Homo sapiens: one gene and its partners. The protein of the gene in region 3 purifies or fractionates together with the protein of the main gene of each other region. This does not show direct contact. Each region holds a gene or a part of one and is shown on either strand. Other genes may lie near its edges. The genes, in order: PDCD4, SRSF9, DDX60, SMARCA1, PRRC2B, EIF5B and PRRC2C.

The links.
Region 1: the proteins of DDX60 (region 3) and PDCD4 purify together in Homo sapiens (affinity purification with mass spectrometry; one large-scale study listed by BioGRID and IntAct). This does not show direct contact.
Region 2: the proteins of DDX60 (region 3) and SRSF9 purify together in Homo sapiens (affinity purification with mass spectrometry, with the first as the bait; one large-scale study listed by BioGRID). This does not show direct contact.
Region 4: the proteins of DDX60 (region 3) and SMARCA1 purify together in Homo sapiens (pull-down; one large-scale study listed by IntAct). This does not show direct contact.
Region 5: the proteins of DDX60 (region 3) and PRRC2B purify together in Homo sapiens (affinity purification with mass spectrometry; one large-scale study listed by BioGRID and IntAct). This does not show direct contact.
Region 6: the proteins of DDX60 (region 3) and EIF5B purify together in Homo sapiens (affinity purification with mass spectrometry; one large-scale study listed by BioGRID and IntAct). This does not show direct contact.
Region 7: the proteins of DDX60 (region 3) and PRRC2C purify together in Homo sapiens (affinity purification with mass spectrometry; one large-scale study listed by BioGRID and IntAct). This does not show direct contact.

The regions. Positions count from the first base shown.
Region 1 is NC_000010.11:110,891,766-110,896,268, forward strand, and holds part of PDCD4 (programmed cell death protein 4), read left to right. Parts: intron 1-2,325; coding exon 2,326-2,433; intron 2,434-2,646; coding exon 2,647-2,757; intron 2,758-4,182; coding exon 4,183-4,322; intron 4,323-4,503. UniProt on the Homo sapiens protein: Inhibits translation initiation and cap-dependent translation. May excert its function by hindering the interaction between EIF4A1 and EIF4G. Inhibits the helicase activity of EIF4A. Modulates the activation of JUN kinase.
Region 2 is NC_000012.12:120,463,707-120,467,497, reverse strand, and holds part of SRSF9 (serine/arginine-rich splicing factor 9), read left to right. Parts: intron 1-1,710; coding exon 1,711-1,871; intron 1,872-3,375; coding exon 3,376-3,548; intron 3,549-3,748; exon of another isoform or gene 3,749-3,791. UniProt on the Homo sapiens protein: Plays a role in constitutive splicing and can modulate the selection of alternative splice sites. Represses the splicing of MAPT/Tau exon 10.
Region 3 is NC_000004.12:168,312,009-168,316,511, reverse strand, and holds part of DDX60 (probable ATP-dependent RNA helicase DDX60), read left to right. Parts: intron 1-4,503.
Region 4 is NC_000023.11:129,446,006-129,449,251, reverse strand, and holds the end of SMARCA1 (SWI/SNF-related matrix-associated actin-dependent regulator of chromatin subfamily A member 1), read left to right. Parts: intron 1-808; coding exon 809-919; coding exon of another isoform or gene 920-943; exon of another isoform or gene 944-950; intron 951-1,950; coding exon of another isoform or gene 1,951-1,956; exon of another isoform or gene 1,957-2,018; coding exon 2,019-2,090; 3' UTR 2,091-2,746; downstream 2,747-3,246.
Region 5 is NC_000009.12:131,480,353-131,484,855, reverse strand, and holds part of PRRC2B (protein PRRC2B), read right to left. Parts: intron 3,131-4,503; coding exon 3,048-3,130; intron 2,486-3,047; coding exon 2,294-2,485; intron 2,147-2,293; coding exon 1,949-2,146; intron 1,498-1,948; coding exon 1,411-1,497; intron 171-1,410; coding exon 66-170; intron 1-65.
Region 6 is NC_000002.12:99,398,730-99,402,451, forward strand, and holds the end of EIF5B (eukaryotic translation initiation factor 5B), read left to right. Parts: intron 1-18; coding exon 19-180; intron 181-577; coding exon 578-685; 3' UTR 686-2,511; downstream 2,512-3,722. Other genes in the region: DNA repair protein REV1, read right to left, coding at 2,512-2,623, 3,515-3,617. UniProt on the Homo sapiens protein: Plays a role in translation initiation.
Region 7 is NC_000001.11:171,483,827-171,489,102, forward strand, and holds the start of PRRC2C (protein PRRC2C), read left to right. Parts: upstream 1-1,703; 5' UTR 1,704-1,909; intron 1,910-5,276. UniProt on the Homo sapiens protein: Required for efficient formation of stress granules.

The DNA of each region.
Region 1 (4,503 bases), on a different chromosome or scaffold from region 3:
CAGTGTTTGTAATGTCGTGATTGCAGTATCTGTTTTTTAAAAATTAAACAATTATTAGAAAAATTGAGGTATAAAAATAGTCAAGATGCCAGGGCAATTAGGCAGGAAAGATAAAAGGCATCCAGATTGGAAAGGAGGAGATAAAACTAGTTGTATTCCCAGATAACATGATCTGTATACAGAAAATTTGAATGAATCCACATTTTTTAACTCCCCAAAACTGAAACCAAACTATTAACTAAAAAATGAGTTCAGAAAGGTTGCAAGATAAAAGATCAGTACACAAAATTCAATTCTCTATACAGTAGAAATGAATGATCTGAAATGCAATTATTGCATTTGTGATAGCATCAAAAATAAAATACTTAGGAATAAATTTAACAAGACAAATGCAAGTCTTGTACACTGAAAACTGCAAAACAGGTTGAAAGAAATTAAGGAAGACCTAAATAAATAGAATGATATCCCATGGTTATGGATGAGGATACTTAATATTGTTAAGATGGTAATACTCTCCAAAATTAATATTTTTGGAAACTGGACAAGCTGTTTTATGGTGTGTGAATTCTCTCTCAATAAAGAAAATTGACAAGATAAAAATGGAAATAAAACTGCCAGTATATGAGTTTGAGGTTGACATTATTTGGATATTTGCTTACATGGAAGGGTTGGATCAAAGAAGACTTTTAGAAATGTATAAATGTATTTGTAATTTATCATTCTCAGAAGTGCATGGAATTTGATGGGGGATATTTTTAATACTTCTAAAGTTATGTAACAAATGTTAAAAGTAAGTAATATAATTTGAATAACAAGTACAGTCACGTGCCACATTATGATGTTTTGGTCAGTGATGGACTGTGTGGGATGGTGGTGGTCCCATAAGGTTATAACGGAGCTGAAAAATTCCTATCGTTGAGTGATATGGAGGCAGTTGTAATGTTGTAGCACAGTTACTTTATTTTTTCATAAATTTAATGTAGCCTAAGTATACAGTGTTTATAAAGTGCATAGCCAGTGTATGGGTAATGTCTTAGGCCTTTACATTCACTAACCACTCACTCATTGAATCACCCAGAGTAACTTCCATCCTGAAAGCTCTATTCATATTGAGTGCTCTATACAGGTGTATCATTTTAAAAATCATTTACACTGTTTTTTATTGTACCTTTTCTATGTTTAGATACACAAATACCATTGTGTTCCAATTGCCTATATTATTCAATATAGTGACCTGCTGTACAGATTTGTAGCCTAGGAGCAATAGGCTATACCATATAGCACTGGTGTGTAGTAGGCTATACCATCTAGGTTTTTGTGAGTATACTCTATGATGTTTGCACCATGACAGAGTCATCTAACACACTTTTCAGAATGTATCCCTGTTAAACGATGCATGACTATGCATTAGTTTGTAATTGTAAAAATACTCAAATGCTATGCTTTAAATATTTACTTACATGTAAATATTTAAATACATATTTACTTACATGTAAATATTATATCCTAAAGCATGACAGCAATTAAATTTTACTTTACCTTTTATGAAAATATCTTATAGAAGTTGGAAGGATACTTAAATATGATTTTTTAAATTCAGTCAGCCAACATTCAACATTCAGGCAACTAGATATGTGCCCACCAAATACAAAGGGGATTTTAACAAATAACATATAGGGAAAAATATTCCTAGTTGAAACTCTTGTGCTGAAAAAGTTCTCCCACTTTTTTGAGATGTTCAAGTTTGAGCGGGAAAATCAAGACTTGTCTCTTTAGCTACAGCTGGAAACTGAATTATTGAACATTTTAGATAATGAGTTTCAAATTCTCAGTTGTAGAGAAAAGAGAAACTATGTGGAAATCTTTGCCCTCTCTAGTAATGCCCCATTATCATCTCTCATTTTTTGGCTCTCAGTGCACTATTAAGAGCGTCTTGATAGAAGTGAAATATTTTGTGCCACTTTATGTTGAAACTTTGTTAGTGCCCTCTAGTGGTATTTAAAATCCCTTATTTTTAGTGGCACACTAGAGCATTATGGTCACAACCCAGGACGCATGCATTATAAACCTATTCGTAGTTCTCAGTGATTCAGACACACTGAAGCATTGCATTTGAATCATAATTATGAACCATTTAAAAATTGGGGATTTATTTTTTAATTATGAAAAATTCTGTTGTAATAGTACCACATCCAATGTATATGTTATTAGCTGTTTGTTACCCACTATTTCATTATATTGGAATGAGGGCAAATAATCCTGTAGGCAAGCACGATATTTTAAAAGTTAGGAATTCTGACACATCTCAACTTTTAAATCTAATAGATTGATATGCTGCTGAAAGAATATTTACTCTCTGGAGACATATCTGAAGCTGAACATTGCCTTAAGGAACTGGAAGTACCTCATTTTCACCATGAGCTTGTATATGAAGTAAGATTACCTTGCCATGTCAAAGATAATTATTAAGTGTTCCTTTTTGTACTGTAGCGACTTATGCTTTTTAAATAATGTACATCCTTTTTTTAATATCAAAGGAGGAAGTGGTTATTAAATTTCTACGATTACAGAAGGCATCTAGGTGCATTTTAGGAGCAGTTTCATATATGAATTAACCAAAAATTCACTCATTGATTCAATTTTTAGGCTATTATAATGGTTTTAGAGTCAACTGGAGAAAGTACATTTAAGATGATTTTGGATTTATTAAAGTCCCTTTGGAAGTCTTCTACCATTACTGTAGACCAAATGAAAAGAGTAAGTATAACATTGTTTTTGAACAACTTGTAGGATTATGTCTTAAATATATGATTGAATACAGATTATGAATTGTCAGTGAAATTTTCTTTAGGTATGTTTAGTGTTAATATGCCTATATGTTTTGTTTTTTCTTAATGGTAATGTTTGAGGTTTGAACCTTTTGCAACCATTTTTTGGAAAGTAACACTGCAGTGTTTTTTTTTTTTTTTTTACCTACTTTAACAAATGTAATTATGTATTCTACCTCAAGGGTTCGGTTTCTAAGATGTGACAATTTCTATTTTATATCTAGAGAGAAACATGAACCTTTAACTTTTAACAAATTATAAAGTACTTTTTTCCTATTAAAAATTTTATGATTATTGTTTTAAATGTTTGTGAGGTTTTTGTTTGCCTTGTATTTTTTTAAAAAGGTAGTAAGTGTAAATAGAGAAGTAGATGGGAAAGGAGTTTGCCCAATGTCTGATGTCTGCTTACAGCTCTTTTAAGAGAACAGTATTTAAAAAAAATTTTTTAGCTATGTAACCAGTTTTACTTATTTTTTTATTTATATTTTTAATTTTAGATATCAGAGGGGTATATGTACAGGTTTGTTAGATGGGTGTTTTGTGTGATGCTGAGGTTTGGGCTTCTAATTAATGATCCTGTCCCTCAGGTAGTAAATATAGTACCTGATAGGTAATTTTTCAACTCTTGTCCTCTTTCCTACCTCCCCACTTTTGAAATTCCCAATGTTTATTGTTCCCATCTTCATGTCTGTGTGTACCCAATGTTTAGCTCTCACTTACAAGTGAGACCATGCATTATTTGGTTTTATGTTTGTGATAATTTTCTTAGGATAATGGCCTCCAGCTGCATCCACGTTGCTGCAAAGGACATGATTTTGTTCTTTTTTATGGCTATGTAGCATTCCATGGGCGTATATGTACCACATTTTCTTTGTCTAATCCACCATTGATGGGCACTTGGATTGATGCCATGTCTTTGCTGTTGTGAATAGTACCCGATAAATATACAAATGCAGGTGTCATTTTGGTAGAATGATTTATTTTCCTTTGGGTATACACCCAGTAATGGGATTGTCGGGTTGAACGGTAATTCTATGTTGAGTTCTTTGAGAAATCTCCGAACCACTTTCTACAGGGGCTGAACTAATTTGCATTCCCACCAACAGCGTATAAACCTTCCCTTTTCTCCTCAACCTTGCCAATGTCTGTTATTTCCTGACTCTAATAAAAGAGAACAGTTGTAAAACACTGTAACAAATCTACTTTCTGTGCTTCTCACGATTCAAATCTGACTTCAGTTTAACCATTTGAATATTTGGCCTTAAATACAAATTGATGACATAGTGATGGATTGTGTTTTATGACATTTATTTTATATGGGCTAACAATTCTGCATGTAATTTCATTGTTGTAGGGTTATGAGAGAATTTACAATGAAATTCCGGACATTAATCTGGATGTCCCACATTCATACTCTGTGCTGGAGCGGTTTGTAGAAGAATGTTTTCAGGCTGGAATAATTTCCAAACAACTCAGAGATCTTTGTCCTTCAAGGTACTTTATTTAAATACTACTTTCTCAATGTAAAATAGTGGATGAGATCTTTGGGAAGGTTAACTGCTAAGTTAGTTTATCGTTCCCTGAAGTCACTGAAGAACGTGACTCTTGTGAGTTCATGGAGAAAGAAGGGCGAAGCTTGTTTTAGCCCCCTTGTAAATCTGTACAGGACTGCCTC
Region 2 (3,791 bases), on a different chromosome or scaffold from region 3:
ATGGAGTCTGGCTCTGTCGTGCAGGCTGGAGTGTAGCGGCACAGTCTCAGCTCACTGCAACCTTCGCCTCCTGGGTTCAAGAGATTCTCGTGCCTCAGCCTCCTGAGTAGCTGGGATTACAGCTGCGCGATGCCATGCCCAGCTAATTTTTATCTTTTTAGTAGAGACGAGGGGTTTCACCAGGTTGCCCAGACTGGTCTCAAGCTGCTAACCTCAAGTGATCCACCTCCCAAAGTGCTGGGATTACAGGCATGTGCCACAGCGCCTGGCCTGAATGCTGGCCAGTTTTTATTCAGAGTTGTTCTGACCTCCTAGCAGTTCTGCCTCTCCCAGTCTGCATTTTACGTAGTCAAGGTTGCACTGGATATGGTCATTGTTGCTTTTAGTTCTAAAATCTTACAAGTGATTATGTGCCTGTGACACTGAACAATGCCTTCATTAGCACATTCAGCTCCTCTTGTCCACCCAAGCTCCAAGGTCACACTTTCTACCATCCAATACTGGAGAATCAACGTGGCATTCCTGACTCTCCTAGAGTCCTAGGAAAGACTTAAAGTAATTTTATTGAATATTTATCTCTTTTGGCAAAATTGTATCCAAAGAATGTTTTTTGACAAAAATAGTTCTCCAAACCATGCTGAAAAGGTACACTTAGAGTTCCAAGGCCAGGCGCAGTGGCTTATGCCTGTAATCCTAGCACTTTGGGAGACTGAGGGGAAGGATCGCCTGAGCCCAGGAGTTCAAGACCAGGCTGGCCAGCAGAGGGAGACCTGTCTCTACAAAAAATCCAAAAATTAGCTGGGTGCAGTGGTACACGCCTGTGGCCCTAGCTATTCAGGAGGCTGAGGTGGGAGGATTGCTTGCGCCCAAGAGTTAGAAGCTGCTGTGAGTTATGCTCCAGCCACTGCACTCAGCCTTGGTGACAGAGCAAGACCCCGTTTCAAAAAAAAAAAAAGTTCCACATTCATCACAAAACACTCATTTGCATTTTTCTTTTGTCCTTTGAGCCTTATTTATTTATTTTTTTAAAAGACCGGGTCTCACTATATTACCCAGGCTGGCCTGACCTGGGCTCAAACATCATGCCCAGCTACTTTATTTACCCTCAAATACTCTCCTATCTAACTGGCTACTTTTTTTTTCCTGTTTTTTGGGACAGGGTCTCTGTCACCCAGGCTGGAGTACAGTAGTGTGATCTTGGCTCTGCACTCCCATCTCAGCCTCTCAAGTAGCTGGGACTACAGGCGTGCAACACCATGCCTGGCTAACCGCCTACTTTTTATTTCCATAGACTTTATGGCACTAGGCTTTGTAGAAAAATATTAAGGGGTTAGTGTGTGGTGTGCTTTTCGAGAAAATGCTCACGAAGATTAGAAAAACACTGATGGTTTATTGGCAAAATCAATAATCTGTCAGCAGTTGATTCTTTTTTTTCTCTGAATTAGCCCTCTTATGAGTAATCTGTTTGCTCATTCATTATAATTTCATACCTCTAAAACTGCGTGTGACAGCTGTAAAGGTTAATTCCAGTATCATGAAACGTCTCCAAACCAAAGCAGAAGTGCTTCAGGATCCTGATTTGTGTGTTTTTTTCTTCACTCTAGGTTTCCCTTTTATGCTTACTACTCATGCCCCTCACTTGGAAAGTCACTTGGCCTCCTGAACAGCACTAACTCCAAACGTTTTTTTTGTTGTTGTTGTTTTTTTTAGAGATGCAGAGGATGCTATTTATGGAAGAAATGGTTATGATTATGGCCAGTGTCGGCTTCGTGTGGAGTTCCCCAGGACTTATGGAGGTCGGGGTGGGTGGCCCCGTGGTGGGAGGAATGGGCCTCCTACAAGAAGATCTGATTTCCGAGTTCTTGTTTCAGGTATGTTCCTTTCAAACAGAATGAGATGATACATGTAAAATACTTAACACAGAGTCTGTCTTCCAAGAAATGATAGCTGTTATTCTTCAGTGCATGGGACACGGGGGCTTTCTTTTCAATAGCCTGTGTGAAGCCTTGCCCTGGATTGCCAATGAGGAAAGTATCCTGCAAATGAAATTGCGCTGGGAGTGCAGCCTTGGAAGAACATAACCATATTTCTTGTAAAGGAGTTTTCTAGTGGTGAGAAGGAAAGATGATGGGAAAACTTGAGCTACAATTCTAAAGATGCTTCTTTTGGAATATACTTGGCATCAGACATGGTAGAAAGGCATTCAAGGAGCCAGATTTGAACAACTTACCCAGCCTTGGATCCTGAAGAAGATCAGATTTTGTGGTGGTTTTAGAATTAAATATTTTTTAAAACCCCGTAACTTAAGAGTCTTAGAGATTTTATTGGAAAGTATAGACTATTTCTGTCTAGTGTTTATAAGTGATGAAATGCTAAACTGGGAGGTTTATCTATCTTCAAAATATTAACACACTGGAAAGACCTGGGGCCTTCTGCATATTGCATGGGAGTTTTAGGGCCCTGGTGGAATGAAATAAATCGAGGAGCCTGGCACCTTTTTAAGATGTGAATGTCACACAATCACAGCATACTCCCATGTGCTTAAGAGTGATACTCTCAGTATCTGCCTATCTTGTGTCCCTTTGTAATTTTTTAACCCCAGAACTCTATTCCCTCCTTCAGGATGTCATACATTATCTTTTTTTCTCTCCATGCTGCTCTGAAATCCTGCTTAGAAAACTATTAGGAAATGGCTGCAGTCCTGAGCTGTGAGCGGTAAACACAGCCTTTGAGAGCAGGAGCACATTTCCCTTTCATGACATCAGGTAGGGTTGTATGACTCCCGACTAGTTTTAGCATCTGAGTCTTACCTTCCCCCCCACTGTATTGAAGAATGTTGGTGATCTTTTAAGAGGTACTCTGTATAGTTTGTCATTCATACCTACAAGAAAACAAACTTTAGATTTTTTGTTGTTGTGTTGTTACCTTCAGCTACTCTTTGGTTATTTCATGTCTGGTTTCAAAATTCCCATGTCCTGTGAAACCCTGTCAAGCAATAAATAATTGGTACTGTTAAATTTCATAATGGAAAAAATTGGAACTCAAAGTATTAGGAGTTTGGCATTGATTTTAAAGGACAAAGAAAGAGGCTATGAATTCTCAAAGATACTAAACCTGTAATGGGATGGACTTCTTGCTCTGTTGAAAAGGCCTGGTCTCTGGAAGATGAACTTAAAACCAGCTTCTCAAGGTGGTTCATTTACCACACATACTTCAGTGCTCTTTTCTGATTTCATGTCCCTTATCAAGGTTTATGATTTGGGGACCCTCAGGATTTAAGTGATCATGGAGAAAGGACCATAGGTATTGCTGGCTCTTAACAGGGCAGTTAACATAGCTGAAGGATGTGGGCTTTCTTATGTTCTCCATGCCTAGGACTTCCTCCGTCAGGCAGCTGGCAGGACCTGAAGGATCACATGCGAGAAGCTGGGGATGTCTGTTATGCTGATGTGCAGAAGGATGGAGTGGGGATGGTCGAGTATCTCAGAAAAGAAGACATGGAATATGCCCTGCGTAAACTGGATGACACCAAATTCCGCTCTCATGAGGTGGGTCCTTGCCTTCTGTTGAGGAGCTTGTACTCAAATCACTCCACTTGAACCTGACCTAGCAGAGGTAGCAAGAGGCCATGCCATTTGGTAACCTCACAGTACCATAAGAGATCTATCTTAGGTGGACAAAGCCATGGAATTTGCTATGCCTAAGTCCTTCAGGGTCATAGCTGAAAGAAGTATGCATTCATGGTACGTTTGTTTTTTAATATGCTTTATTCTGCATATTAGTATCACATT
Region 3 (4,503 bases):
GATGCTATTGCTGGACATCCTGCTGTGAAAGATGAAGAATTTAGCATTCATATTTATTTTTCTTTCATTCATCCCTTTGTGAACTGCCAAGTTGGTTAATTATATTATTATTTTCATACTGTCAAGGTTTATCATATTTTACAGCAGTTTGTGACTTTGATTCTTGTGATTTGTTTGTATGTTGAGTCAACAGTAAAAAAGAAGTAAACAGCAGTGACAAAATTATGAGTATGTACACATTACTCAGTGTAGAAGCAATCTAGGAATTGCTAGGCTAAGACATGTAGTTCTATGTTGTTAAAATTACTGTTTGAAATAGACTTTTGTAAATTCGAAGTACCATGGGTTCTCTTGTTTTTCTTTATAGCTTCCTTTAACTTTTCTAAATCACACAAAGTTTCATGGTTTTTTGATTGTCTTCATTCTTGATGGGTTTTCCCCAATTTTCTGTATTATCTCTTTAAATAAAATTATCATTTAAGATATATAGTTGGCATTTTGGAAGACAGCGTGGCCATTCCTCAAGGATCTAGAACCAGAAATACTATTCGACCCAGCAATCCCATTACTGGGTATATACCCAAAGGATTATAAATCATTCTACTGTAAAGACACATGCACATGTATGTTGATTGCAGCACTATTTACAATAGCAAAGACTTGGAACCAACCCAAATACCCATTAATGATAGGCTGGATAAAGAAAATGTGGCACATATACCCCATGGAACACTATGCAGCCATAAAAAAGAATGAGTTCGTGTCCTTTGCAGGGACATGAATAAAGCTGGAAGCCATCATTCTCAGCAAACTAACACAGGAACAGAAAACCAAACACCACATGTTCTCACTCATAAGTGGGAGTGGAACAATGAGAGCACATGGACACAGGGAGGGGAACCTCACACACTGGGGCTTGTCGGAGGGTTGGGGGCAAAGGGAGGGAGAGCATTAGGTCAAATACCTAATGCATGAGGTGCTTAAAACCTGGATGACGGGTTGATAGGTGCAGCAAACCACCATGGCACATGTATATCTATGTAACAAACCTGCATGTTCTGCACATGTATTTCAGAACTTAAAATAAAAAAAGGATATATGGTTGGTGAAATTTATGACTTCTTAGAAGTCTAATTACATCTTTTTGCCTCCTCCATGAATTGAATCACTATTTAGATGCAGAATTCTAAGTTCAAATTATTTTCCCTTTAGAAATCTGAAAGTGCTTTATTTTATCAAAACATCCAGGAATGTTGCTTATTTTAATTAATTCTGTGTGCCAGGTATTATTTTAATCAATTCGTATCCATCAGTTCATACATTTAAGTAGCTTGAAAACACAATCAGAGGTGAGTAATATTATTGTTCCAATTTTATAGATAAGTAAATTGAAACTCAGAGATGGTAAATACCTTGTCTAAGCTTATAGAACTATAGTATATTTCAGAACCAAGATTAAAATGCAAGTAGTCGGCCAACAGTGTTCATTTCTTAAACCAGTTCTCATATGGCCTGACTTCCATTTCTTTGTACCTTTTCTGTCTTTCTCTTTATTCTTGGAGCTCTGCAATTTTAACAAGTTGTGCCTAGGCGTAGTTTTCTCTTTTGTCATTATTTCTACTCAGTAGTTAGAGAAACATTTCAATCTAAACACATTATGTTGTTCTTTAGTTCTAGTCTAATATTAGTATATTAGTTTAAGTATATATCTTTGATTATTTTTATCCCCACTCATTTTGGAATCTTAGTTATCTCCTACTAGAAATATTAGTAGGGGGAGAAAGAGCTTATTGACTTATTCCTGGATATTTTAGTATTTTTAGAATTTTTTCATCTCTTTGTCTTTTACTTTTATCCTTTACAAAATTTCCTGGACTTTAACCCTACAGATCACTGACTAAAAATTCCAGCATGCTCATTTTATTGTTCTGCAATGACTTTCTTCCTTGTAAAATTATGTTTTAAATGTGTACGAATACTTGCATGCTTTCTTTTTCTCTTTCTCTCTCTCTAGCAGCCTGTTACTATTTTATGAGAAATATTTTTAATTCTTTGAAAGCAGTAATTAGAAAATTTTGAAGGTCTTTTCTGTCTCTGCATCATGCTTATTCATCTGGTTTCTTATTTTTGCTTTTTTTGTGTGCCTCAAATGTCTATTGGTACTAATTTGTGTGTGTGTGTGTGTGTGTGAGTGTTCAATCATTAGTTACTACAGGTGGCTGGATCTCTAGCATGTCTCTCCCTTAAATGACAGAGAAGTGGGGATAATGACTGTGAATTCTGTTTAGGTGTTAGGGCGTGCATGTGTTGGGGCAGAGGTTAATAGGGTAGCTCTAGTATAGGGTATATAAGAGGAAAGCCTAGGGTGTGTAAGCCTACTTTAGTATAGGGCATGTAAGAGGAAAGCCTATTAGGCTTTACACGCATTGTCTTGCATACCCTGTCCTATGTCATGCAGAGCAACCTGTAGGATCTCAAACTTCCCATAGGCAGGCTACGGAATCCCTTGATTGTCAAATTAAGGAGGGATTGCCCATTAACGCAGTTTTATTTTGTCACCATAGCTATTGCTGAAAGTTTCACAGTGTTTAACGGGCACTCACGTCTCAGTCATAGTTATATTTCATTATAAAAACTATATTATTCCTTTTAATCTATGTATATTATTTCTTAAAACAATTTCTAAGTTGTCAGGACATAAATAGTTATTAATTTGTTTGTATCTAACTACTTAATAAATGAAACGGTTAGCTATTGATTTTGTCCTAGGAGTGGCATAAAAAAATTCCTGAGACTCTAAGAGCATCGTGAACATCTGGGAACCTGTAAATTAACTTATTTCATCTTGTAGAATCTGATGCTATCCTTTCTGAAGTTTTCTGTAATATACTTGGGGTTAATTCTCTCTTGCCTGTTCAGTTCTCACTGACCCATTTTTTTCCATTTGAGCTTGGTACAATTTGGAGAGTTGAAGAAAGATAGTATGGCCAATGCACAGTTAGTGAGGTGGAGGATTGCATGAAATGGGTGACAGAGAGTTTTTTGAAAATACCTAATCTCCTGACCTGGGCACAAGACCCATTATAGTCTGGTTCTAACCTACCTTTCCAATGTCATCTCCAATGAGTCACCCTGTCCTATGCCATGTAGAACAACCCATAGGATCTCAAACTTGTCATGTAGTTTCACAACTTTATGCATTAAACTGATGCTGATTTTGCTACCTGAAAAGTAATTCTCTATATCTCTCACTTTCCCCAACATGCTTTCATAAGTCTTCATCATCTTTTCAACCTGTTCTTGAAACCTCAGAACACAGGACCCTGATCCCTTCATTCTGATTTAGGAACTCCCTCTCAATTCTCTAATGGCTTCCTGTGCCATTTCTGCTAGAACACAGCAAATTAGATGTAGTGTGTCACTTAGTTATCTTTCAACTTACACTGGGTTGTACAAGGAGAGAATCATGCTTCATGCATATTTGCATATGTTTCAGCAAGTACAATGTTTTGTAAAGTGTAGATACTCTATAATCTTTGAAATAAGATAGTAACTGAGTGAGTGAGAGACCATACTTACGCTCGTGTCTCCATTAAGGGTCCCTAAACTCCCCAGCCCACAGTAATTCCATTTTTCTTTAAACTTATTTGTCATTACAGTCATATACTTCCTTGCATTATTATTGTAATATTTAATATCAGCATGTGCATCACCATTATATGTTCCTTACTATCATGGAATAGGAATCTCTCTCTCTCTATCATATCTATCTATCTATCTATCTGTGTATCCATCATCTATATCTATCTATATCAATCAATCTATCTACTATCTATCCATAAATCATGTGTGTATCTACCTATCTGTTTCATAGCCCTAACATATTGAATGGCAAGTGTCTCAATATTTAGTGTCCATGACAAAATGCTCAAGTGCATTTTCATCTACCTCTTTAGTATTTTCTTCTCTATTACCTTTGTGGATTCTTCCTCCTCTCTTGATATATTAAGTATTAGTATCTTCAAATGTGGGTTTTTAGTACTCTTCTCCCATGATGCTGTCTCTCCCTGTCCAAGCAAGCTCATCTACACCAATGGCCTCATTTACCGTTAATACTCAGATGACTTACCTCTTCAAATCTAGTCCAGACTTTGTATTTGTCCTCTAGACTTGTATATTTTACTACTTACATATCATGGCTTATGGGGAATCTTGAAAGCAAGTCAAATTCAGGTGGTTCACAAATGCCGCCATAATCTTTTCCTGACACGTAGCCTTGTTCTAAAATTCCCAGCCCAGGGAATGGCCTAGTCATCCATCCTGTTACTTGAGCTAGAAACTTGTGTCATCCTTGACAACCCCCTTTCCTCTCTTGTCCATCCACATCCAGTCCAGTTCCAAATTATGTCAAGCTCATCTCCTAAATGTCCTTCAAGTGAGTCCACATCTCTCCAGCTTTATTATCTCAGCTACCATCAAACTATATTACATCAAATTATCATC
Region 4 (3,246 bases), on a different chromosome or scaffold from region 3:
GTACTTCCAAAACTTATTTTGACCATAGAACATCCCCTTATTTTTTTTTGTTTATGTGATTTATGTTAACTTTTTATTTTGAAATAAGAAAATTCACAAAAAGTTGTAAAGAAAATGTACAGGGAGGTCTCATGCACCCTTCACCCAGTTTTCCCCAATAGTAACATTTTGCAAAACTATAGTAAAATATCACAACCAGGAAATTGACATTCGTGTAATCTATAGAGCTTGTTCAGATTTCATCAGTTATACATGCGCTCGTGTGTGTGTGTGTGTGTGTGTGTGCAGTTCAATGCAGTTTTGTCATGTGTAGAGTTGTGTAACCTCCACCACCATAAGACTCCATTGTGCTATCTCTTTACAGTCACACCTACCCTCTCTCCTCTCCCTAGCTCCCGGCAACCATTGATCTGTTCTCTCTTTCTATAATTTTGTCATTTAAGGATGTTATATAAATGGAATAATATGGTATGTAACCTTTCGAAATTAGCTTTTTTTTTTTACTTAGCATAATTCCCTTGAGGTTCATTCAGATTGTTAACTGTATTAATAGTTCTTTCCTTTTTATTGCTGAGTAATATTATATGATATGGATGTATCATGGTTTGTTTAACCAGTCATCCATAAATGACATTTACCCCCACTCCTAATTCTGGTGGAATCTATTAATACCCTGTGTGAATATTGTCCTGAAAAATAGCAGTTTTGGAAATTCTATACCACAGAAATCATACAGTTAAATAGTTGTCAGCGTTTTAAAGATAATGATTGGGTTGCAGAAATTAAAAATCTTTATTACTTCATTTAGGAATTCCAGAGACGCTGTAACACTCTGATTTCATTGATTGAGAAAGAAAATATGGAAATTGAGGAAAGAGAGAGAGCAGAAAAGAAGAAACGGGCAACTAAAACTCCAATGGTAAAATTTTCAGCATTTTCCTAACTTTTAGGTAGATCCCATTTTTTTACATAATTAAAATGCCTATATTATGTTTAATGCCATAGTGATAGCTATTAATAAAAGCTGGTTTTATGAAATGCTAATTTGTTTTGGACAGAAGAAGAATTGCTTCACAACCATGTTTCTTATTTGTTTGTAGAACATATGGTTAGGAACTCCCTAGTAACTAGGCTCAGTATTTTAAAAAATTCCTCATGAATCTAAACAGAAGTATAATGCAAGTGAAATCTTTTGAATTGAGACTAGAGCTATCATGGGGGTAGCAGAGGGGTAGGGGTGGGATGGGATGGGGCTGAAGTTGAAACTAGGAGTTCTGATTTGATCAAGTAAGTTTTCTGATGTTTGTGGAATTATGAGTACAAATGGGAACTCTGAGCAGACAACAAAGCTTTGCTTGGTAATAAGTGAACTGTTGAATTGATAGGATAACTTGATTTTAATCCAGTCAGGTTGCTTTGTACAGCTGTAATTTAAAATATTCTTTAATAGATCGTATTATTTGAGTGTGGTTAAGTAAACTGCCATATTTCATCGAATCTAAGATGCCTTCCATTGTAAGACACAGCATTATTTTATGTACCACTGAGGGAAAATGCTGCCAGGTGTAATTTGTCATCAGTTGTAAGTTGCATCCTGATTTCAGAGATGCTAAAATGTGAAAGAAATGTGTATCATAGAAGATATGAAATATGGTATGTTAAAACCTATCATAAGTTTTTTAAAAAATATATACTCATAAACAAAATTTTGCCCAGAAAACATTAAGTAGTTCTTTAAGATAAGAGTACATTTATAATACCATGTGTAAGTAGATACTTGATGACTATTTTTGATGGGTATTTTATGTCTTTTCATAAAAAGAAACATCTTTGAAGGTTATTTTACATTGGGTTATATAGTTTGTTGGGCTATATAGAACATTAACTGTGAATATAACATTTAAGTGAATATTCATGTTAAAATTTTTTTTTAATGCATTTACATCCTAGATTTAACATTGTTGGGCCATTTAAAATGTGCATATTGGAGCAGAACATTAAATCTGTTTCCATTTTAGTCACAGAAAAGAAAAGCAGAGTCAGCTACTGAGAGCTCTGGAAAGAAGGATGTCAAGAAGGTGAAATCCTAAAGCCTAGAAATAAAGTTTTAAATGGGAAACTGCTATTTTCTTGTTCCCATCTTCAAATGCTAATTGCCAGTTCCAGTGTATTCATGGTACTCTAAGAAAAATCTCTTTGGTTTTGATTTCTTGCATATTTTATATATTTTACAATGCTTTCTACCTGAAATGTGTAGCTTTATATTTTATGGCATTCTAGTATTTTTGTGTACTGTATTTTGTGCATTTCATGTCTTCATCAAAATCCTCTCAGTCCTTGTTCTTTTGAAGCTTGTGCTGAGGTTTTAGCTTTTCTATGTTTTATATGCCGCTGCTTTGAAAGAGAACCTAGATTCTATAGTTGTATTATTGTTGTTTCATACTTTAAATTTATATGGCTGTGGAAAAACGAATTAAAATGTTTTGAGGAGAAAGACTTTTTCACTTCTTTGTTGCTTTCTTTTCTATTGAGTCTGGGCTTGTTTGTGTTACTGCATACTGTGATTAGCATAATAATTGTTTCTTTGAGGTCATCTAAATATTTTTTTCCTAAAGGAATAAAGGGTGAGGAAAGAAAAATATTAAAAAAGCTAATATTTGATACTGTGCTTGCTGTCAGTATGCATTACATTTAAATTATTCTCTATTCAAGTGGGAAAATATAATAAAGAAATGTCTATAAGAAATTTAATTATTTCCTGTTTTTTTGTGCAGTAGAAAGTAGTTGTGTTTACTGAATTGTATTGCTTACTACTGTGTATTTGGTTCAAAGTTAAAGCTTTGCTTGCTGACTTGTGTGTGATCTTCTGTCCCATAGAGCCAGTTCAGAAGGGCCTGGGTGTAACATGTAGAATTATTAACAATTAAGTTTAGAGTATGAAATAAGCACTATGTATGCAGAAGAAGGGGGGCTGTGTTTGTCAGGAATACAGTTATGCTCAGGTAACAATCTCAAAGTGTCAGAGGTTTTACACACCAAGAGTTTTTTTTTCTTGCTCACACTACATATCTCATGCAGGTCAGAGGGATGTGGGAATGGGAAGGGATCTGCTCCACACGGTAACTCAAGGTTCCAGGATGACTAAGGCTCTGCTATTTTGTGGCTGCAACATCTGGAACATGTGGCACTTAGGCTCTTTACTGCCTCGGCCTAGAAGTGACACATGTCACATCCACTTATATTTCA
Region 5 (4,503 bases), on a different chromosome or scaffold from region 3:
CCCTTCTGCCTCTTTGTAAGCTAAGGTACTGGGTGGGCCCTCACCCAGCTCAGGGCTGGTGTTACCTTCAGAGTAAGGTCGGCGGTGGGGAAGGACATTGGGGAGAGACCGATGGCCCTCTGGATGTGATGGTCCCGCCGCAGGATGGGGATACTCTGTGTTAACCCTGCCTGGAGAGGAGGAAAAGGAAACCATGGAACACAAACAGGTGCAGAGATGGCTTTGCCCAAACCCATCCATGGCTCTCCTGAACACACTCAAGGCTCGTCCAAATGTATCTATGACTTGCCCAAACCCATCCATGGCTTTTCCCAAAAGCACCTACAGCTCCGTGTCTATGAATTGTCCAAATGCATCTTCAGTATTGGCCACATGTACCCAAGACCACCCAGATGAAACTGATGGCAGCCAGGACCATGACTGATCTCCTGGAGATGGCTGCCTCCATCAGTTTCCTCCACACAAGTCTGCAGAGAGCCACCCCCATATCCACACTCCATAGTGCCCTCCAGACAGGGAGAGCCATGTCCCGGCAGTATAAATATGGACTGGCAGCCCGCACACAAACATCTGGTTCAGAAGGCACCTGCCACCTGGCCTGGAGATGCCCTGGGCCAGACAGGGAAGGCTGTGCCCCTCAGCAAACTGAAAAAGAGGGCTCTGGTAACAGAGGCTGGAAATGCAACAGTGCCCCCGCTTCCTGCAGATCCCCGGTGTCCATCTGCATGTGACAGAGACCGCAGACTCTCGAGTAAAGAACCTCGTAGAGCCCAGCACTTCCAAAACATTGTTTTCATTCAACACCTATGAATATTGTACAGCACTCACATTCCTTGGAATCCTCTGGGAAACGCTGCCCAAATGATACTCGTTCATTCAGCATATGCACTAGCACCCACCCCTGCAGGTGGTGAGGACAGAGCAGTGAACCAGATGTCACTGCGACAGCCTCAGCTGCAGCCCCGAGTGGCCACAACAGATGCAACTGCCAGCTCCTGAGCCCATGGTAGAGCGCCAGCAGGTCTTCTGGATCACAACAGTTAGATTGCAGGCGGCAGGGACCCTTGGATGGTGAGATGGGGCCTCCTGAGGAGGGCTCTCCTACTCAATCTGTGCCCCTTACCCCTGGCCACAGAAAAGGCAGCCTGAGTCTGGGCTCGCACCTGGCACAGAGGAGACAATGGAACCAAAGAGAGCCAAATAAACCAGCCCTTAGGAACTGTATGATCCCCACTGGAAGGTCACAAAACCTGGGCAGGAACATTTAAGCACCTTTTAAGGACATGGAGCTGCTAGCAACTGAGTCACGTGCCAGCCCAGGTCAGCCTGAAATACATGTGCTGTCTCCTTCACCCAGGGCCTGCCAGCCCCAAGCAGTGAGTGGAGCCAAAAGTGGAAGTGTGGACTTACATTACTGGCCAAGGCATCCTGAAGTTTAACAACTGGACTCCCAGTAGGACCAGAGGCAGAACCAGGTGGCAAGCTGAAATCGGAGTCCTGAAAAAATAAAAAAGGCCACACAGCCCACTGAGATCCTCCTGGCCCTACATTCCCCAGAGGCATACATTAACGTGATGCAGTTTCCCCGACTCAAAAACTCCACTGAGCAGCATTCACTGGAGCCACATATGAGCGAGATGGCCAGATTTTCCCCACGGCACAGGAGACAGGACGCCAGCCTCACTTCTTTCTCCCTGTCCCTTGGGTGGCCTGACAGAAACAGGGAAGATCACTGGCCTGTCTGGTGTCAGTGAAGCAATCTTTAAAGCAACTCAACAGAGCACTGGCCATGTGCAGGACTCCACACCAACACTCTAGCCGCTGGAAGACTGCTTGGCTCCCATCCTTCTATTCCTTCTAGGAGACAATCCCATCTGAGCCCCCAGCCTCTCCAAGTACCAAAATAAAAAGTAAAAAAAGCAAGCAAGAAAACAAATCAAAGCCTCACTTTTGGACTGACTCCAAATTCAATGGGTGGCACAGGCAGCACGGAGTCCACGTGAATCTCCACCCCGTTAACAGGCGGGACGACAGCCCCTTGCAGCCGCTCGGCCCCCTCCGAGCCCTTTCTGTTTTTCAGAGAACGCTCGTTGCCGATGGGTCCTGGTCTGTGCTCCTTGCTCTGTCCAGAGCCTTGTTCTGAATCCTTGATAAAAAAGCAGAGAGGTGGAGACACACAGACTGGAATGACCACACTCTCTAGCTTCTACTGTCCCAGGAATTGAGGAAGATGATGAGACGATGGCCCCTTCCACCCAGGCCCTGGCCACTGTGACTGGAACGTCCAGGTTACCTTCTGCTCAGATGGCTTTGGAGCCTGCTCCTTGTGGCTGTCGGCCTTGGGTTCCGCCAGGCCGGGCCCGCTCATCTCCTCTGGCTTCAGAGTCCCATATGGGGAGCTGCGCTGCGAGGAGGTCGCAGACGACTCCCGAGACTCGGCACTCAAGTCAACGCCACTATCTCCCTGGCTGCTCTTAAAACCCTGCTGTGCAGAGCACAAAATGGGTTATAGCCTCAAACTCCCAACTCGATTATCCAGAGAGTAAAACTGCATGTGGCACAGAGACTTTTCTACCCCAGCTGCCTGTCCCTTGCCAAGTCTGGTCCTGATCTTGATCCTGCCCTGCTGAGGATGCCTGACAACTTACGTGTGGCCAAACACACCAACCCCGATAGAGCTCGTGACCACAGGATCTTCTATGGGCCCCAGACCGAGGCTGCCAAACCCATCTCACTTGTGACCCAAACCAGACTACGTGGCTGCTGACACCAGTTCAGAGGAGGCCCTGAATCCCTCTTCCCACCCAGCGTTGGGTCCTCCCTTGTTACCCCTTTTCTCTTTCTCCTGCTCATGCACGCCCCATGCACAGGCCAGAAATCAAGATGGAAAACCACTGATGAGCTTGGCCCCATGGAAACAACCTAATTCCAAGCTCAGCTGCTGTGGCAGGGGCTTGGGTGGGCCACAGCAAGCTGGCCGTGTGGATGGTGAGCACACACTCACACACTCATCCCAGGGGCAGCATGTGGGCAGCGGCCACACTCACCTCCGCAGAGCCAGTCTCGGTGCTGCTGAAGGCAGTGACAGCTTTCCTCCAGGAGTCGTTGGCTGGGGCCTGCACAGGGAGAGCTGCCAGGGGAGGAAGACAGAGTCAGGGCATCAAAGAGCAACCCGTCTAGAGAGTTTATGAGCTCTTAAAGAACAAGCACAGGCACAGCTTGCAGAAATCCAACTCCCCTGCCTCCCCTGCACCCGCCACCCCAGCCCCCTACCCGTGACACCCAGTGAACGGCTCTGACGTGGAAGAGCTGGTCTGACAGCCTTACCCAACTTTCCACATCCTCACCCAACGTGTTTCTCAACATCTCATGGATTACAGGAGAGAGTGAGCAGGGCAGAGCCCTCACTCCTGCCAATCTGGATTCTCTGTCGTTATTTCCGCTATGCTCATGCTTCTTTTCACTTATACTATTTCTAAAAGTTGGTAGCTTCTCTTTTTTTACATTAAAAAATATATCTTTCTTTTTTTTTTTTTTTTTTTTTGGAGACGGAGTCTTGCTCTGTCGCCCAGGCTGGAGTGCAGTGGCGCGATCTCCACTCACTGCCAAGCTCTGCCTCCCGGGTTCACGCCATTCTCCTGCCTCAGCCTCCCGAATAGCTGGGACTATAGGTGCCCGCCACCACGCCCGGCTAATTTTTTGTTGTTGTTGTATTTTTAGGAGCGACGGGGTTTCACCATGTTAGCCAGGATGGTCTCGATCTCCTGACCTGGTGATCTGCCTGCCTCAGCCTCCCAAAGTGGTGGGATTACAGACGTGAGCCACCAGGCCTGGCCTTCTTTTTTTTTTAAACAATAGAGACAGGGTCTCACTCTGTTGCTGGTCTTGAACTCCTGATCTCAAGTGATCTTCAAGCCTTGGCCTCCCAAACTGCTGGGATTATAGGTGTGAGCCACCACTCCTGGCCAAAGTTGGTGGCTTCTACAGAGTCTTTGAAAGATCCCAGCGGGTATTACTAAAAATTTTTAAGCTCACAGACCACTTTTTGAATGGCCATGGATCCGGAGCCCAGAAAAATAGATATGCATGCAAAAGTTGACATGCTAGCAGGGGGTGGGGGCACATATCTGCAATCCCAGCTACTCAGGAGGCTGAGGCAGAAGGATTGCTTGAACCCAGGGGTTCAAGTCCAGCCTGGGCAACATAGTGAGACCCCATCTTTAAAAAAAAAAAAAATCCTTTCACATGCTATTTTAATATCCAAGGGCTCTCTGAAGCCATCCCTTGGACACAACCCCTGGTCTGAGAAACCAATGAGCCCCTGCAGAATTCTGGAGTAAAAGATCTGACAAAAGGGGATGATGACTCACACCTGAGAGTCACATCTGATTCACACCTGGCAGCTCAACCAATCTGGCACCTGGGCATTTTTGGACACCAATACTATGACACCTGTCACTCAGCCACTACCAAATGTAGTGTTATTGATGTTTTATCAAATGG
Region 6 (3,722 bases), on a different chromosome or scaffold from region 3:
TTTGTTCTTATTTTATAGTTTGTTGACATCGGAATAGTAACAAGTATTGAAATAAACCATAAACAAGTGGATGTTGCAAAAAAAGGACAAGAAGTTTGTGTAAAAATAGAACCTATCCCTGGTGAGTCACCCAAAATGTTTGGAAGACATTTTGAAGCTACAGATATTCTTGTTAGTAAGGTAAGTATTTCAGCAAAAGTGGCACACTTTAAGCAACAGGGAATCACTCTTCTTGGGTCACCTGTACCTGTAGCTCCTTGGGCTTCAGTTTGATTGTAGAATCTGATGGGACTGGATCCCCCATTAGGGCTTGACCTCTAGCTGGGCCTTGTCTGTTGAGGAAGTTGCTCTATCAGGAAAGCAGCACCAACAGAGAAAGCTAGGACTTTTAGGTCCCCTCGTGCCTGACATGCAAACCAGATGTGATTTTGGAATTCTACTCCCTTAGGCAGGCAAGCCCTGTTTTTTATTTCTGCTTAAGCTTTTTAGTACAGTGAGAGCGGGCATCTGGGGCCACAGCTTTCTTTGGCACGTTTGTTATGTTCTGTTTACCCTGTTTGTGCCTCGGGCATTGCAGATCAGCCGGCAGTCCATTGATGCACTCAAAGACTGGTTCAGAGATGAAATGCAGAAGAGTGACTGGCAGCTTATTGTGGAGCTGAAGAAAGTATTTGAAATCATCTAATTTTTTCACATGGAGCAGGAACTGGAGTAAATGCAATACTGTGTTGTAATATCCCAACAAAAATCAGACAAAAAATGGAACAGACGTATTTGGACACTGATGGACTTAAGTATGGAAGGAAGAAAAATAGGTGTATAAAATGTTTTCCATGAGAAACCAAGAAACTTACACTGGTTTGACAGTGGTCAGTTACATGTCCCCACAGTTCCAATGTGCCTGTTCACTCACCTCTCCCTTCCCCAACCCTTCTCTACTTGGCTGCTGTTTTAAAGTTTGCCCTTCCCCAAATTTGGATTTTTATTACAGATCTAAAGCTCTTTCGATTTTATACTGATTAAATCAGTACTGCAGTATTTGATTAACCAAGCTTCTGCAGATTTTGTGATTCTTGGGACTTTTTTGACGTAAGAAATACTTCTTTATTTATGCATATTCTTCCCACAGTGATTTTTCCAGCATTCTTCTGCCATATGCCTTTAGGGCTTTTATAAAATAGAAAATTAGGCATTCTGATATTTCTTTAGCTGCTTTGTGTGAAACCATGGTGTAAAAGCACAGCTGGCTGCTTTTTACTGCTTGTGTAGTCACGAGTCCATTGTAATCATCACAATTCTAAACCAAACTACCAATAAAGAAAACAGACATCCACCAGTAAGCAAGCTCTGTTAGGCTTCCATGTTAGTGTAGCTTCTCTCCCACAAGTTGTCCTCCTAGGACAAGAATTATCTTACAAACTAAACTATCATCACACTACCTTGTATGCCAGCACCTGGTAACAGTAGAGATTTTTATACATTAATCTTGATCTGTTTTAATCTTGATCTGTTTTAGTAGAGATTTTTATACATTAATCTTGATCTGTTTTAATCTTGATCTGTTTTGTCCTAGAAAATTCCATCATACACACATTTCCTGATATTTGGGCTTAGTGCTTCTAAATTGTTGCAGACACAAAACTTAATGATTCATTCGTAGTAGTAATCTGTAGCTAGTTTTAGGGTTTTGCTGAAGTCAGTGTGGGGTGTTTGTTTGAGGAAAAAGTTCCAAATATCCACTAGCATAGAATTTTAAACTATTTTTATTTTAAAGTTATGGCATAACATATAACATAAAAATATTTTATATACGTTTGAAAAATCTATACCGTTCTTTTTTATCATCAAAGTTTCTCAATGGCCAGTAGAAGCAAAAAGACAACACCACCTCTGATCTACGGGACATAATGTTCCCAGGAAAAAAATCTTCAAGTGGGTGTGAGGGTGTTTCTAATTCAAAATATGTAGATTTCTCCGCATGGAAGAAGTAGTAAAGATTTTCTTAACATGCTCCTGTGTTCATGCTTGGAGACAAGAATAAGATGGTTTAGAAGCTTTACCCTTTCTTGGAACAAGTAGAATCCCGGTCTGAGACCTCTCAGGAATTTCAGAGCTTAGCAGTCTGGCCTGGAGGTTTTTCAGCCTTTTAGTATAATAAACAGTAGTTGCTTCCTAGAGTTGAGTTTTTAAGGATTCACAAAAAGGAGCCTGTACAAAATATACATACAGTTCTTTATTAAACAACTGTAAACACTTCACTGTAAAAATCCATAAAACTTTATAAACAAACATTTTGTAAATAGAATCTATGCTACAGTAAAATAATTAACACAATTATTTACATGCAATACTGACAAATTTGGCACTTTTTGAAAAGAAATGTACAAAACACTTGCTTTAAAAGAAATTTAAAATTATAAAAACTCCGAGCATTACTATCATGCACTTTGCAAATACCTCACAAGCACTTATGGCACAGCTATCAGAGAGCATCAGGCTCTCTGGTAATATTTATGTAACTTTTAATGTGCTTCCATAAGTTTGTTGTAAAACCACCTGGACATTGTCAAGAATAAAGTCAAATGCCATATTCCAAACCGATTCCACCGATTGCTGCATCAGCCTAAAGGTGGGGAGAGAAGAAATGTCATTAGGAATTAGGAAAGGTCCTTAAGACTAATTATTCCTTTTTATATATAAAAATTGACTTTGGCAAAAAAAAAAAAAAGTCCTGGCCAGGTGCGGTGTGGCTCATGCCTGTAATCCCAGCACTTTGGGAGGCCGAGGAGGGCGGATCACCTGAGGTCAGGAGTTTGAGACCAGCCTGGCCAACATGGTAAAACCCCGTCTCTACAAAAAATAGAAAAATTAGGTGGGCATGGTGGCACATGCCTATAATCCCAGCTACCCGGGAGGCTGAGGCAGGAGAGTCACTGGAACCCAGGAGGCAGAGGCTGCAGTAAGCCAAGATCCTGCCACTGCACTCCAGCCTGGGCGACAGAGTGAGACTCCATCTCAAAAAAAATAAAATCCTAGAACACTCAAATTTTTTTTTATTTTGTTTTGAGACAAGCTGTCGATCAGGCTGGAGCCATGCAGTGGTGCAATCATGGTTCACCGCAGCCTCCACCTCCCAAGTAACTGGGACCACAGGTGGGCACCACCACCCCCCCAGATTATTTATTTTTTGTATTTTTCAGTAGAGATGGGGTTATGCCATTTTGGCCAGGCTGGTCTCAAACGATCCACCCACCCCAGCCTCCCGAAGTGAAGTACAGGCGTGAGCCACTGTGCCCAGCCCACTTCCTATGGTTTTTTAATCACATGTAAGACCTTGAGGGCAACATATTTGGAACCTTATTTGCTACTTAGTCAACATGGCAAAATAAAGGATATCACTTTCTCATTAACCCTAATGAGTACAGTTTCCCAGAAAGTTTAAAACAACTCAGTACACCCTCAGCCATTGTGACATGCCATTTTTTCCCATTTGATAAAAGTGATGAATTACTACCTTTTCATGTATTTTATAACTAGATCCAGTTTTTCCAAATCTTTTTCTTCTATTAGATCAGTACAGTATTTCACAACTTGGAGAATGTCTTCTTCCATTGGATCTAGGAAGGGGGAAAAACTTCAAATGAGGACCAGTCTTTTTGAAGGAGAAAGTCAGAGATCTGCATGGATAAAGGAAAACTGCATTTCTACAACTATGTCACTAA
Region 7 (5,276 bases), on a different chromosome or scaffold from region 3:
GTGCTGGGATTACAGGCGTGAGCCACCGCGCCCGGCCATACGTGTCAGTCTTATGACCTTGGTTAATGTAATTTCATCTGATTGCTGAAGTTGTTCTCCATTGCTCAAGACAGATGATTTGGCTGGGCGTGGTGGCTCATGCCGGTAATTCCGGCACTTTGGGAGGCCAATGCGGGAGGCTTGCTTGAGCTCAGGAGTTCGAAACCAGCCCAGTCAACATAGCAAGACCTCGTCTCTACTGGCAAAAAAAAAAAAAAAAAAAAAAAAAAGCCAGGTTTTGTGGCAAGCACCTGTAGTCCCACCTACCTGGGAGGCTGAGACAGGTGGATTGCTTGAGCCTGGGAGGTTGAGGCTTCAGTGACCTGTGATTATGCCACTACACTCCAGCCTGGGCAGCAAAGTGAGACCCTGCCTCCAAAAAAACAAAGAAAGATGTTTCTGTGACCAGGACACTATAGACCAGATCCTAGAAGGTTGTAGAAATTCACTAAAGTAATGCTTCCTTGTCCTCTTGTGGATGATCAGTAGGCTTTCCCCTGGCAATGACCCTATATCAATAAAAAAACTTTTTCTTTTCTTCTTTTCTATTTTTTCGAGAAAGAGTCTCGCTGCAGCCTCAACCTCCTGTGCTCAAGTGATCCTTTTGCCTCCAGCCTCCCAGGTAGCTAGGACTATAAGCATGTGCCACTATGCCTAGCTAGCTTTTTTTCTTTTTAATTTTTTTGCAGAGGTAGGGTCTCACTATGTTGCCCAGATTGGTCTTGAACTCCTGGTCTCAAGCAATCCTTTTGCCTTGACCTACCAAAGTATTAGTATTACAGGCATGAGCCACCAAGCAAGTCCAGACTTTTCTACTTCAAATTAATATTAGTGGGGAGGGAGGTGTTCATAATTTACCTCTCTTTATTATTTCATTTATTCTAACATTGCTACAGTGACAATTCCATGGACATACACCAGCTACTGGCGGGGAAGATCGTTCAGACCAGAAGTGGTAAGAAATCCTTGAATTTTAAATATGTCATAGGTAGTTCACAAAGAGGACAAAAGATACCATTTACTAAACATTCGCCATCTGTTCTGACATAATATTATCATCATTGTAGTCTCCCACTTCCAGATACACTCATCTGCCTATGTTACACTTGCCTAGTAAAAGCCAGCATGGGTGAATCTTACTATTCAACGGAGCTGAACACTGTGATGGAGAGATCATATAAATAAACTGAATGGCTTATCTCACATCCATAATTAGAAACTTAAAAAGTGCTCTCAGCAGCCCATGCTACTCTGTTCCTCACACTAGTTTTACTTTCACTCTCTGTGATAACTTTTCAATACACCAAGACTTCTCAGCTTGCCCCAAATTCACTGAGACATACTGGCGAACTGCTGGTTCAACCATTTACACATCCACCCACCAGACATAAGAGTGCTCATTTCACTGAGGCTTATTATCAACTTGTAAACGTGGTCAATTCAAGACTTCTTAGAAAGGTCTCAGGTCCAAGCTTTGTCCTGAAAAGATAATTCTGATTGCAGAAACTCCCTCCGTCCAGCAGGAAGCGCCAGCACCCTCTGTCGGGGTTGGGCCGCCACGGAGGCTTCACGTGATCCGGCCGTCTCTGCGCAGGAGTGTGGTCTTGCGGAGATTTGACCTACGTACTTAGCGTCATGACGTAGTACGTAGGGGCTGGCTAGCCGCCATCTTGCTTCTTTTTCTCGCTCGCTCGCTCCCCCTCGGAAAGCTGCGAAAGTGCTTTGGCGGTTTGTCCATCCGCAGCTTCGGCTTTTCCAGTCTGGTGGCCCTTCCGGCCACCCCTTTAACCCCAGCTTTCCCTCCCCCTTCTTTCGATCAGAGATCGGCGGAGACCCTCGAAGTGCGCAAACTTGACACTCACCCTGACCGGTAAGGAAAGCGAGGGTGTGGGGGCCGCGATCAAAGAGGGCCCCATCGGGAACGGCCAGAGTGCGGCCTGGGGCGTGGGAGCGCACCCAGACCCTGGCGCCCGGAGGCTAGGGGGCCGCGTGGAGAGGGCCTTGGGTCCGGGCATTTCCCTTCTGTTTGGTTACCATCATCTCTGTGTCTGGGGAAGTCGGCCTCCAGCTTGGGGAGCGGGAAACCGGAGTCAGACCCGCCCCATGTGGTCTGCAGCGGGAGTTCTGGACCGGTCTGTCTTGCTCCCACCTAGACCCCAGTCCTGGCCCTGCGAGGGGATTACGCATGTTGCCGGGTAAGCGAAGGGGGTTTCCGTCTTCCTGGACTGGCGGACGTGAAGTCTTTTTTTTTTTTTTTTTTTTTTAGTGTCGGGTATGCGTTTCCCCAAACAACTGAAGGACTCAGCCGGGGCTTTCACTGTCTACCTCTTCCTGTGTAGTGAGGGTGGGACTTGCAATGAGCAATGTATGGGAGGGTCTGGTTTAAAGACCTGGTTAGATGAGAGGCTCTTCGGGGAATCAAGACCAACCCTACTTCCGCTAGGGAAGTGCTGCCCAACTCCGGAGGAGGATTTGGGTAGTCTTTTCACACTCTAGGCCGCTCCATCCTCTAACTTGCGTGGTGAATCTCGGTAGCTCCCTGTCTTTGAGATAGCGTTGATATTGGTGGTGTCAGGGTAAAGGCCCCGTTTTAGGACTGAAGAAAAGGGCATGGGGCCACTATAGAGACATTGATAGAGTCTTCCTTCCTTTGCATGAGAGGAGTACCTTTAATTTAAAGGGATGTATGTGTGTTTTGACATTATTTGGGATCTTTTGAGGGTCTGACATGCCTGATGTTTGCTGGCTTATAAAGCTACCTGGATTTCCGCATTGGCTGGTTTTCAGCCTGGGTTCATAGATTCATACCTCGTTAGAGTACTTAGAATTGTACAGTAGGCGGCTCTGCTGTAAGATTTTCATTTGGAATGCACCAGAAGAATCGGAGGATTTTTTGATTGTTGAGTACTTAATAGCTTACTCCTGCAAATAAAAATAATAGGGTGATACTAAGCACCTACCAAGCCTAACCCCACCATTTTTCAAAACTAGATTTCACCTCCCATATTGGTAATTAAGATGCTGCTTTGACTGGAGCCATTTTTAGGTGTGTGTCACAGATGCACTGCAGCATCTTTTCTGGCTCACCCCAAATGCATTGATCCCCTAAAAAATTAGGAATAAATTGAACTTGAATTTTGTCTTTAGCATGTAGTCAAATAGTAATTCTCTCCTTTTCTGTAAGTGGATTTTCAGAATATAGCCTTTTTAAGTGATTGTGTTTGCTCTGCTTAGCTTATGTGTGGCTGTTCTCCATTAGGTGACCTTTTGCTATACACTGAGCACAGTAATAAGTCCTTTTCATACATTTTTTTTTTAATCTCCACAACAGACCTTTGAGAAAAGTGCTATTAAGATCATCCCCATTTTACAGATGAGGAAATGAAATCTGAGAGAGTAGTCTGACCAAGGTCACATAGCAGTTATTGGTGGTATTGTGTAGGTTCAATTCCATACTGTCTGAACCCAAAGGGGATGCTCTAAACCTTCAACCTGCTTTTTAAATTATAAACTACAGTAACTAAATAAGATAAAGCATTATTAACTAGTAGTTTTTCTTTAGCTTGACTAGTATATGAATATTGTTGCATGCTAAGGTTAAAGTTTTGAAAGTTGTAAAAATGGAATATATCCACTTTGGACTTGGGGTAGAGGCTAATTTTTTTGTGTCCTTTTCTATTTGAGTGCTTAGAGATAACTTAAAACTAACTCTACCATGTCGTAGATATAATTTTTAAATTTAGGCGTCTGATCTATATTATTGGTAGAATATTCCCTCATCTGTAAAATGGTGATGATAATAGGACTTCCCTCAGAGGCTTTTATAGGAGTAAAAAAAGATAATGGATAATGTATGTAAAGGGCTTATTACTATGCTTAGTGCATAGTAAAAGGTCAACTAATAGTGGAGGGAGAATGGTAGGATATTGGTAGAAGAAAATACTCTCTTCCAAGCAATAAATAATCTGTAAATTCTCAGGGTGATGTATATATTTCTTTAGGTACATAAGAAAATTTCACCTCCCCTTATCCCTGATATGTCTACTTATATGCAGGATTTTGCTTCTTAGCGATTTCTTTATGCTCTACAGTAAATATCCCTGGGATGAGTATCTTGTTCATAGCTGAAAATGCAGAAGTTCTGGCTCATTCCAGCCCCCTCTCTTCTTCTTACCCCCACCCCACCCTCTTTAGTGATAAAATGTCTTTGAAGATTATATTATATCCCTGTCTGCCTCCAAGTGCCACCCCTAAACACTACTTCAGTTTGTTAGTTAGGTAACTTGTGTTTTGGATGCTATTTATGTCATATTTGTAAATGACAAGAATTGATCATTGGTAAAATGTTACATAAGTTAGTACAGAATTGTATTCTTACAGTGAAGGACATACAAAAATTGTGTCTGAGTTATGACACACTTTCATTTCGGTAAATCGTGATTTTGTCACCTTATGAATAGGACAACACAATGAAAGCTTATCTCAGTCTATGTTAATTGTTGCTTACAAGTCTGAGAGTTACTGTGTTAGTTTTATGAGTAATAACATTTTAAATTCCTCGCTAATCTCATCGATGCATGAGCCAGAACACCTTTGTGGATAAAAGCGTTCTATAGAGAGGGTAACTTTAGTAAATTTTCTATTTAAGAGACAGACCTAACTCTGTTGCCCTGGCTGGCCTCCAACTCCTGGGCTCAAGAGAATCTCCTGCCTCAGCCTCCCAGGTAGCTGGGACTAGAAGTGCCTACCATTGCTCCCAGCATTGCCAGTTACATTTCTAGTCCTTATTTTCCTCCAGATTATCAGAAAGCATGTTTTGGGGCCTGTGACTACATGTATTTGCTGGCAAATCCAGTCAAACAAGGACTGTTACTTAGTTTCAACCGGAAATTTTTATCTGATTGGCAGACATGATTAACTAGACTCTTAGACTGTTAACTAAGAGTCTGAACACAAGATTGTAATGAAATTATTATGTGAATTATAGTCAGTGTGATATACTCATCCCTGTGTGGTGCTGCTATGTGCTCAACATTAAGGGAAGATGGAATATCATTTGAGGAGCACGTCTAGTATTAAAAAAACTATTGGGTATTATGTATGTAGCATACTACATAGCAATATGTACTACATACTATCTGGTAATTTTTCTGTTTTCTGTGTTCTAATACTAGTTTGTTTTCCTCTACTAGACTGTTTCCATGTCCTCATCACCTTGTATGGTGGTTGGCGTATAC